Regions from separate parts of the Homo sapiens genome. Here all the other regions are linked to region 3. The links come from fine-mapping of genetic effects on gene expression. A gene starts in region 3. Each other region holds a variant in brackets. All regions are shown on one strand. Distances are between the middles of the regions. Region 1 overlaps FBXW4 (F-box and WD repeat domain containing 4). Region 2 overlaps ARMH3 (armadillo like helical domain containing 3). Region 3 holds the start of HPS6 (HPS6 biogenesis of lysosomal organelles complex 2 subunit 3). Region 4 overlaps OGA (O-GlcNAcase).

Region 1 (2,500 bases), 420 kb before region 3:
GGCGGGTTTTGCTAAGGACACCATCAACAGCTTACAAAGGAGGAATCCTTATTTGCTGACTAGTAATAATGTGAGGGGGAGGAGGTCAAAGGCTGTACAACAGTTCCTATCAGACTCTTCACTTTGTTTAAGAGTTGGTAGCCAAGGTCTCTGAGCTCAGTCACCATTCACATAGACACTTTGGGACTGGACATCATGGAGTCATTTGGCCTTTATCCAACTAGTAGACACCTATTGTTCTGTGTGCCCACATTCTCCCTCCATATATGTGATTCCTGAGAGATCCACCATGTTCTTACATGACTTTCCCTCCCTGGCCACAGTTAATTAATCAAGAGATGCGCAGCTGACCCAAAACTGGCCTGGGATTTTTGGAAGCCAGTCACTCTCTCTGATTTAAGCCATGAGCTGCCAAACTCAGGAGCACTTGGCAGCCTCATGGAATAAGCTGGTCAGCTTGGAGAAAGGAAGGAGCTAAGAACCATAAAGAAAGAGATGAGCACCCCAGAAGGATAAAGCCATGGCAGCACTATGGCCTCTGGTTCAGCTAGTCCCAAGGGTGTATTTCAGTTCTGCCTTTGGCTTGGTTTTTCACCTTTTCCCTTGGATTTCATGAGCCAAATATTCTGTTTTATTTATGTGAATTTGAATTTGGTTTCTGTCACTTACAATAAATGTGTCCTGAGTAATATAGAGCCTCTGTTCAGTAACTGCTCGGCTTCTCACCCAACTGAATGTCCTCACTGAGAGATGAGCAAAGGGCTTTGCCAGGCCTCTACTGGACACCTTGGGGCCTAAGAAGATACTTCAACCACAAAATTAATACCTGGTAGGTCTTCTAGGAGAGCAGATGAAACAGAACCACACAGGCTGGCCTGGAACTTCAGAAAGGAGATGAGGTGTTCTCTTATACCAATGCCTAAGAACAGTGCCAGGAAAAATCTACCTGCCCACTCCCAGTAGGGGGTGAGGAGATGGTCTGGACAACAGAAAATAACAAGGATGCTGCTTGAGGGATGGGAGTCTAGTCTTCAAGGGACAAGGCCCTGATCTTCAGAGATTTGGTCCCTTGAATCCCTTTTTATGGACTGATGAGACTGAATGTTCTACTGGAAACCACATGACTCATTCTAATGGGGCAGAGTTTGGTTTACTCTCAAACCCTTCCATTTTCTTTTCTTTTCTTTCTTTCTTTCT[CTTTTT/C]TTTTTTTTTTTTTTTTTTGAGAGAGAGAGTCTCACTCTGTTGCCCAGGCTGGAGTGCAGTGGCATGATCTTGGCTCACTGCAACCTCTGCTTCCTGGGTTCAAGCGATTCTTGTGTCTTAGCCTCCCAAATAGATGGGATTACAGGCATGTGCTACCATCCCCAGCTAATTTTTTTTTTTTTTTTTAAGTAGAGATTGGGTTTTGCTGTATTGGTCTCAAATGGTCTCAAACTCCTGGCTGGTCTCACGCTCCTGGCCTCAAGTGATCCACCTGCCTCGGCCTCCCAAAGTGTTGGGATTACAGGTATGAGCCACCCTGCCCAACCTAGACTCTTCCTTCCCCCACCCCCGCCTTTTTTGAGACCAAGTCTCACTCTGTCGCTCAGGCTGGAGTACAATGGTGTGATCTTGGCTCACTGCAACCTCCACCTCCCAGGTTCAAGCAATTCTTCTGCCTCAGCCTCCCGAGTAGCTGGGATTACTGGCACCCGCCACCACACCCAGCTAATTTTTGTATTTTTAGTAGAGATGGGGTTTCACCATGTTGGCCAGGCTGGTGTCGAACTCCTGACCTCAGGTGATCCACCCACCTCGGCCTCCCAAAGTGCTGGGATTACAGGCATGAGCCACCGCGCCCAGCCAACCCTTCCATTTTCAACAACCATAATGCCAGGCATTTAAGAGATAGATAATTTAAATATATTTTCCACGTATTCATCTAATTTTAATTAAAAGCATGCACAATTGGATAGGAGAATCTTTGAGGGGGAAAAAAGGAAAAAAAGCATGCATAAAATAATTAAGATGGTGATGGAAAACACAGGGGTTAATTTTACTATTTTTCTCTTTATCTTTGAAAATTTTCAGAATTAAAGTTTAAAAATACACATCCACAATCAAAACCAATTGACTGTGATCTTTCTTTGTAACCCCAAGCAACTCCTTTGTTACAACTTCTTTTATCTCTTCTCCACCCTGACCTGGTACAAATGACCCAAAAACTAAGGGAAAAATAAATCTGACTATAGGAGCAAACTCAAATATTCTACTTCTGAATCCCTCTGAGTGACATGTGCACACAAACACAAAACACAAGAGAAACCAAGCAGAAAATTCACATAGTGCATGTAAGATTTTTTCTCAAAAAAAAACAAAACAATACACATACACCTTAAGTGTGTCCCCCCAAACCCTCTCACTCTCTTTTTTTTTAATGAACCTGGCCCCAGATCAGAAAGACATTTGAAGTTGTAAATCAGAAATTAGGTACGAGGAAACCAAAGCTTATTTATGGAAA
Region 2 (2,745 bases), 97 kb before region 3:
GACTTGATTTTGTGACCTGGCATGGAGCTAGGTTTAGGTACCACAGAACCCAAATCAAAACCTGTTCATTAGGAGAGATGGATAATTTCACAGTGACTAATAAAAGAATAATATTACCATCTCAGTTGCTTAGGAGAGAAGTCAAGAAACTCAAAGGACACGATGAAAATAGCACTAGTGTAACAAGCTCATGCCACCAAAACCCTGGAAGCACTATAAACTCTAGCCAATTCCAGCATCTCTGGACAAAATCACCAATTACCCAGGGACATTGCCAGCAATCAGCAGGCTCACTGTCAATCAGCAGAGTGGTGCAGGAGAGAATCTGAAGCCAACACCTGCCAGTAGAATAATTTAAAAATACTCAGCCAGATGCGGTGGCTCAAGCCTGTAATCCTAACACTTTGGGAGGCCAAGGTAGGTGGATCACAAGGTCAGGAGTTCAAGACCAGCCCGGCCAACATGGTAAAAGCCCGTCTCTACTAAAAATACAAAAATTAGCCAGGCATGGTGGTGTGCGCCTGTATTCCCAGCTACTCGGGAGGCTGAGGCAGGAGAATTGCTTGAACCAGGGAGGCAGAGGTTACGGTGAGCTGGGATCGCGCCACGGCACTCCAGCCTGGGCTACAGAGCAAGACTCAGTCGTGGGGGGAGCAGGGGGCGGGGAACAACTCTAGGTGGCTTTTCAGAATACAGGCATCTGTCTGGATGCAAGCCTAAGCACTTCACTGACACAGAGGCCAAAGAATCAAACAAGAAAATGAAATGGCTCTGGCTGTATGCTATCAGCCTCTCCAGGTGAACACAGCACACAAGTCAGTATGTCAACAGCCTGCACTGACTAAAGGCTCCACATTCCTCTAAATGAGTCAGAAATAGAACAAATCCTTTCTTTAAACGGAAATCTGCTTCCATCCTTACCATTTTCCTTGCAGTCAATGTGTATCTGCTAAAAAAAAAAAATAAATAAGGTTCTCAACCATCTTCCATTCCCCATTTTCTTGCAGACAATGCAAACCTCACAATTAGCACCCAGCCTCTTCTTTTTCATGAAAATGAGTTTCCACATGAAAGTTCCCAGATCCTAGACTTTGGGAAATGTAGGGTCCCTGTGCAGCTGCCTCTAACCAAGCATGCTCAGGAGCCACTGCCTTCTTCTAGGGCCCTATACCACCTGCTCCTTTCCCCCCACCGTTTCCTAAAGGAGTGATAGCCAAAATCACCCTTTAAGAAATCTAAAAGTCAATGAGACCATGTCTCAGTGGAGCCATCTGACACAGAACCAATAACTTTACTTTTTGCCAAAATGAGGTAGGACCAATAACAGACTTGTCTTGCTCCCTCGAGATCCAGAGAAGGATGATACCTTATGAAACCACATGACATGTCCCTTTGAAACTAATATAGGCAGAGTAACCAAAAGCACAGCTAATCCTTCCCTGGTCCCTTTTACTTGACAA[A/T]ATGCTCATGGGCCTATGAGAGTTGACATTTTTCTGGATAGGAAGTGACTGCATGCACAGAGAAAAGAACAAAGTGATTTCTTGCTCTTTTGGGGGCTTTTACGTGGGAATCTTTTTCTCCCTGTAACAGGCTAAACCTGTTAGAGATTCTTATCTTTTGCTTCTGCCAAGTTTCTGAGGGGATGAGAGAAAGATTCAAAATAGTGTAAATTTTGGATTCAGCCAAATGTAGTGATTTGAAAGGGAAAAAAGCTTCCTGGCATTCCTTTTTAGTCCTTGGGCTTTCTATACTGCTGTAGACAATATTTCATAACTACATTATAGAACCAGAAAGATACCTTCTAATGCCCCTGAATTAGAACATTCTAATTTTGAGAGGAATTGATCACCCATAGAGGAAAAGAGGCTCTCTATTTTTGCATATGGAAGCTAAAGCAGTCTTAATTAGGCACATCAGCCTAGAATATATCTTGTGACATATTTGCCTAAATCAGAGAAAATTTAGCAGAATGAGGAAGAGCAATTTTAAAAACAAGATAGAAATAGCAGCTGCCAAAATTCCCCTTCCCATCTACTCTAGTTTTTACTGCTATGTTCTTTCCCGCCTGGATACTCTCTTCAAAACTAAAAGAAGCAATGTTGTAGAGTTATATAAGATGTCATCACTGGAGGAAGCTGGGTGAAGGGTACATGAAACTCTATATACTATTTTTGCAACTTCCTGTAAGTCTATAATTACATCAAAATTAAAAGTTTAAAAAAGAAACTAAACTAAAAGAAGCACACAATGAAAAGTTCAAAGCATAGTTTCTCAAAATCAAGAGGGGCTGCTGAACTATCAAAGCTACATCTACACAAGAACTGCCAGATAAATCTATGGCTTGAGTCAGCCTTTCTCTTGAAAAATTTCAGTCCTGTATGGCAACACTTAAAAGTAAAACAAGCTTCCAACGAAAGGCTCTCAATTGCCAGTCTTGAGATGTACCTAACCAAGAAGTCATAGGCCTCTGCCAGTAATAGGAGAGCCAGCTGGATCCAGAACGCTGTGATACTCCCTGGGTTTTCCATTTTTCCCAGTAGATATCTAAAAGGTCAGGCCATGTACAATTTCTTTTTCACAAAGCTGTGAATGCTTTGGATGTTACTTAGCACAGTGAAGCTGAACAGATTGTTCTGGGGGCTTAGGGGGCCTTTCTTCCTGCAGGCAAGCAAATGTTGCTTAGTGATCTGTGTCTGAGCATAGGAGTCAGGAACTCTAAGTTCTAATCATGACTCTGTTTAGCGT
Region 3 (2,705 bases):
CGGTGGCTCATGCCTGTAATCCCAGCACTTTGGGAGGCCAAGGCATGTGGATCACGAGGTCAAGAGATCAAGACCATCCCGGCCAGCAAGGTGAAACCCTGTCTCTACTGAAAATACAAAAATTAGGTGGGCGTGGTGGTGGGTGCCTCTAATCCCAGCTACTCGGGAGGCTGGGCAGGAGAATCGCTTGAACCCAGGAGGCAGAGGTTGCACTGAGCCAAGATGGTGCCACTTCACTCAAACGTGGGCGACAGAGTGAGACTCTATCTCAATCAATCAATCAATAAAGGATGGAGGAAGATGAACCAAAGGCAAATAAAACTCTGAAGGCAGTGCTATCTAAAAATAAAAATAAAAAAATAAAATAAAATAAAAGGAAAGGAAAACCAGCCAGGAAAGATGCAGTGCAAACCACAGGAGGGACTTTCAATGAGAAGGCTGTCAAATAAAAATGTCCTTGAAGACCTCAGCAAAAGCTACTTCAGGGAAGTAGTGGGTTGAGGATAGAAGGAAAGAAAGTGGAGGTGGCAAATGTAGCATCCTTGCAAGAAAATTGACTGAGAAAGGAAAAGGGGAGGGAGTGATGGAGGTGGAAGTGGGGAGATGAGGATGAAAGAACGAATTCCAAGACAGGAGAGATGACAGGGTATTTCTATGCTGAGGACGGAATGAGGGCAGTGAAACAGAAATGGATGCAAGTTCTCAAGGAAGGTAGGGGCCGGGGAGGAGAGGCAGGGCTCATAAAGAGGGATTGGCCTTGGAGAGAGGAGGAAAACTGCTCACCTGAAAAGGCAGTCAAGGGGTGGAAGGACCCCTGCATACAAATTTGTAGGTGTTACTGAAGAGTCGGTACACAGGCTCAGTGCTTCTAAATTATGTTTCTCTGTTTTGGTTTGGGTGATGAGTTGTTGATATGATAAAGTGATTTGTTGCACTGACTCTGGAGCCAGAGTGCCTGTGGTTGAAATCCCACCTCCACCACTTAATACCTGCTTGATCTTAGTTAAGTTACGTAATCTCTCTGTGCTTCATCCTCCTTATCTGTAAAAGGGACTAGGGGATAGAGAAGGCTGTCACATAGTGATATGGAAGTGGTTTTCTTTCCTTCCTTCCTTCTCTCTCTCTCTCTTTCTTTCTTTCTGTCTTTTTAAAATTTTTATAGAGACAAGGTCTGCCTATGTTGCTCAGGCTGGTCTCGAACGCCTGGCCTCAAGCAATCCTCCCACCTCAGCCTCCCAAAGTGCTAAGATTATAGGCGTGAGCCACCGCGCCCAGCCATGTTTACTATTTCCACTAGATTGTCATCTCCATGAGGTTGAGGTTTTCTATTTTGTTTAGGGCTGTCTACTCAGAGCCTGGCACAAAGCATGTGCTCAACGAAAATTTCCTGAATGAGTAAATTGGGGTGAAATTCTTGGGAGAGGGGCTCAGGGGGCTGGAATCCCTATTCCTGCGTGGGACTCCGGGCCACTGGGCGGCGTCCTGGGGTCTGGGGAAGGGCCTCCCCCTGCGCCGAGAGCGTGCCCGGGCGGGCGCGGTCCAGGCGCTGAGCCCCTGGGGCGCTCCCGTGGCTCCTCCCCCGGCGGGCGTGTAGTGTCGGCCCAGCGACTGCGGGAGGCATCCCGGAGCCGGCCGGGCGGGGCGGAGTCGACGCTCGGCCCGGCCTCTGCTCACCTCATCCACGGGAGACGGAAGTCTTGGCCCTGCTCCGCTCCCCCGAGAATCGGGCCTCGCCCTGCTGGGCGGCTGGACCTGGGCAAAGCCTGGGCGCGCTCCCGCGCAGCGGCGCCATGAAGCGCTCGGGGACTCTGCGGCTGCTCTCGGACCTGAGCGCCTTCGGCGGCGCGGCGCGGCTCCGGGAGCTGGTGGCCGGGGACTCAGCGGTCCGAGTCCGTGGCAGTCCGGACGGCCGCCACTTGCTGCTCCTGCGACCCCCTGGGGCGGTAGCCCCACAGCTGCTAGTCGCGTCGCGAGGGCCCGGCGCGGAGCTAGAGCGGGCCTGGCCGGCCGGCCAGCCCTCCCCGCTGGACGCCTTCTTCCTGCCGTGGCCAGCGCGGCCGGCGCTGGTGCTGGTGTGGGAGAGTGGCCTGGCCGAGGTGTGGGGCGCGGGCGTGGGGCCTGGCTGGCGGCCGCTGCAGAGCACCGAGCTGTGTCCGGGCGGGGGAGCCCGCGTTGTGGCAGTGGCGGCGCTCCGAGGCCGCCTGGTGTGGTGCGAGGAGCGGCAGGCCCGGGCCGAGGGCCCGTCAGGGTCGCCAGCAGCCGCTTTCAGCCACTGTGTGTGCGTCCGGACTCTGGAGCCCAGCGGGGAAGCTAGCACCAGCCTGGGCCGCACACACGTCCTGCTGCACCACTGCCCTGCCTTCGGGCTGCTGGCCTCCTGCAGACAACTCTTCCTGGTGCCCACTGCCACCACCTGGCCTGGCGTGGCCCACGTTCTACTCATCTGGAGCCCAGGCAAGGGCAAAGTGATGGTGGCTGCCCCACGGCTTGGTCTCTCCTACAGTAAGAGTCTGAATCCTGGACGAGGGGACACATGGGACTTCCGGACCCTGCTCCGAGGCCTTCCTGGGTTGCTGTCCCCCAGGGAGCCACTGGCTGTACACACCTGGGCCCCAACTCCCCAGGGCCTGCTGTTGCTTGACTTCGGGGGCACTGTGAGCCTATTGCAGTCCCACGGTGGTACGCGGGCTGTGGGCACCCTGCAG
Region 4 (2,745 bases), 250 kb before region 3:
ATTGACAATTTTCCTAAATCAACTTAACTACTACTAGTATATACTATAAGACATATTTTTGAATAATTTTCAGTAGTATCTCAAGATAGTCATTTTTACTCTATTTTGATTATTGATCACATTAAGTTTCATTACCAGCACCACCAGAAAGTAATTAAGTTGAAGGCACACTTAAATAGAGTAGTAAACCACAACACTAGATGGAGATGGGGTAAGCTGTAATTGCTTCTTTGTAATTCAAGAAAACTTTCAGCCTTCTGTGCCTTGGCTGGGCTCTGTAACCAAATATCTTGTTAGCTATATGCGTATACCATTTAATTTCAAGTACAAAAATGTTTCACCATTTACAAGTTCCCAAAGAAAAGCACCTCTCTAATTTGGCGGTTCAATGCTATACTACTTTTTATCAATTTTATGTAACCAACTCAACGTTAAGTATACCCATAGCAGGCCGGCCGGGCACAGGAGCTCAAGCCTGTAATCCCAGCACTTTGGGAGGCTGAGGCAGCAGAATCTCTTGAACTCGGGAGGGCGAGGTTTGCAGTTAGCCGAGATCGCACCACTGCACTCCAGCCTGGGGGACAGAGCAAGACTCTGTCTCAAAAAACAAAACAAAACAAAACAAAACCCAAAGACAGCCTATTAATGGCTTCCCACTTTCCTGGACTAGGGTTTAAGGACCAGTAACTGCTGACAAGGCCAAGCCATACTAGAGCCTGAAGCAAAAGGAACAATCAGTAGTGCTGATCCTGTCTTTACCTAAAATTTTAGCATTGTGTACATCATGAATTTCTGCATTAATTTTGGTTTTTTAAAAAAATTGCATAAAATATTATTTATGTTGATTACTTTTTGGGGGTCCCTTAAAATTTGCACCCAAGGTACGTGCCTCACTTGCCTTGCCCTGGGCCTAGCCCAGCTCCAGCACTTCTTTGCCCAGTGGCCCACTGTTTAATCCACTGGCAGAAGTAAGCAGCACAATCTATGACCACAGAACAGATGGAGTCAGCCTAGCACGCCCATGATATCACACATATGGTCATGACCTTGCTAGCGCAGAGCACTCTTTCAATCTCAGCTAACTGAATAGTTACCAGATAGAAGAAAAGGAAACTACCTACAAAATAAAAATAAAATGTCATAAAATTCTTGTACAACTACATTTAAAATATAACCGTTTTCTTCACAGATTTTGAATTTATGGATAAAAAGAAAAAGATTACCAGCTTCCTCCACTGAATACATCTCTCGCCAAAACATCCTATGTTTGTAGTCATCTTTTGGGGCATACAAGTATGTATTTAATTCCCATTTCTGGAGCCTTAAGGAGAAAGAAAATTACATATGTA[T/A]AAACAGGCAACATTCATAGGCTGTCAATCTCCATTTCCCTCTTCTTGGAGCATCTCCATCTCATACAAAGCTAATATTCTATGACAGTAGCTTTTAACCTTTTTGTAATCAGTGGAATTTAAAAAAATTAAGTATTACAATGTATGCCAACATACAAAACACTCTTAAAAAACACAACAGCTCTGGGTAAGGTGAAGCCCAAAACTTATTCAGCTCCCCAGGAAAAGTTTGAAAATCAAAGGCCTAGGTGAAGAAAAAAGGGACCAAGGTAAAATAACTTCTGCAATTGAGAAACCATCAAAATGCACCTGGGCTATTCACTGTTAGTATTTCTTCAAACAAAAGAAAATGTTAAGAGTTTAAGGTTCTCCTCTCTCCTTCATATAATGAAGATTTACCTTCTAAAGAGTTCTTTTCTCTGTTCCATAACCCAAGGTCTTCCATAAAATCCTAGATTCAAAGTAAGAATGAAATTATATTCAGTTTTAAAATGTGGTAAGCTTTATTGAGAAAAGCAAGTTACAAAACATATAATACAATCCTATTTTGTAAAAAGCATAAAATACACCAAATCGGAAGGATATTTAATAAAATACTAAGGTTCCTTTAATCTTTGGGTGGTGACGTTACAAGGTGACTTTTATTCCATTTTTGCTTAGGTAATTTTTTTTATTTTTTCTACCATGACATTAGTTACTTAGGTGATAGTTATTTTAAAACAAACATCTATCATCTTTCCACTGTTGATAAAGTCCAAATATATTTAATTCCAATTTTTTAAGAGATCTCAATCTTATAATGGGGAACGGCAGCAATGTAATACAAGCTGCCAACAGTAACAATTACTTCCTAGAATGATAGTAAAACTGCTTTAGAAAGGGTGAGGGGAGGCCGGGTGAGGTGACCCACGCCTGTAATCCCAGCACTTTGGGAGGCTGAGGCAGGTAGATCACTTGAGGTCAGGAGTTCCAGACCCAGCCTGGCCAACATGGTGAAACCATGTCTCTACTAAAAATACAAAAATTAGCCAGGTATGGTGGCAAATGCCTGTAATCCCAGCTATTTGGGAGGCTGAGAAACAACAATCACTTGAACCTGGGAGACGGACTTGCAGTGAGCCGAGACTGCGTCACTGCACTACAGCCTGGGCTACAGAGCAAGACTCCATCTCAAACAACAACAACAAAAGGGTGAGGGGAGATAAACAGGTAAAGCAATTAAAAACAAATCAGAGATAGGATTAGGAAAGAATCTGACTTAATTTTATGATCGTGCTCCTCTTTTTTAAAAAAAGTTCCTGGCCAGGACTGGAATTCCAGTTACTTGGGAGGCTAGGGCAGGAGAACTGCTTGAATCCAGGAGGCGGAGGCTGCGGTGAGCCAAGATCCGCGCCAT

What was found. PIP is the estimated chance that this variant, and not a neighbour inherited with it, causes the effect.
Region 1: its variant is the best candidate, but not a certain one, in a credible set for the expression of HPS6 in whole blood (INTERVAL, PIP 0.85).
Region 2: its variant is the best candidate, but not a certain one, in a credible set for the expression of HPS6 in whole blood (TOPMed, PIP 0.78).
Region 4: its variant is the best candidate, but not a certain one, in a credible set for the expression of HPS6 in whole blood (INTERVAL, PIP 0.59).

The regions. Positions count from the first base shown.
Region 1 is chr10:101,639,287-101,641,786 of GRCh38, forward strand. All of the region lies in intron 5 of FBXW4 (F-box and WD repeat domain containing 4), which reads right to left. Among named protein-coding and RNA genes, the nearest start is that of MIR3158-2, 39 kb to the left of the region's middle. The variant CTTTTT/C (reference allele first, on the strand shown) is at 1,198.
Region 2 is chr10:101,967,091-101,969,835 of GRCh38, forward strand. All of the region lies in intron 20 of ARMH3 (armadillo like helical domain containing 3), which reads right to left. Among named protein-coding and RNA genes, the nearest start is that of ARMH3, 88 kb to the right of the region's middle. The variant A/T (reference allele first, on the strand shown) is at 1,461.
Region 3 is chr10:102,063,685-102,066,389 of GRCh38, forward strand. It overlaps HPS6 (HPS6 biogenesis of lysosomal organelles complex 2 subunit 3), which reads left to right and starts at 1,665. Exons shown (of 1, transcript NM_024747.6): 1 at 1,665-2,705. The coding sequence starts at 1,791. RefSeq lists an enhancer at 1,157-1,206 and a silencer at 1,417-2,086.
Region 4 is chr10:101,811,807-101,814,551 of GRCh38, forward strand. OGA (O-GlcNAcase) reads right to left here. Exons shown (of 16, transcript NM_012215.5): 2 at 1,749-1,800; 3 at 1,224-1,321. Among named protein-coding and RNA genes, the nearest start is that of OGA, 5.3 kb to the right of the region's middle. The variant T/A (reference allele first, on the strand shown) is at 1,350.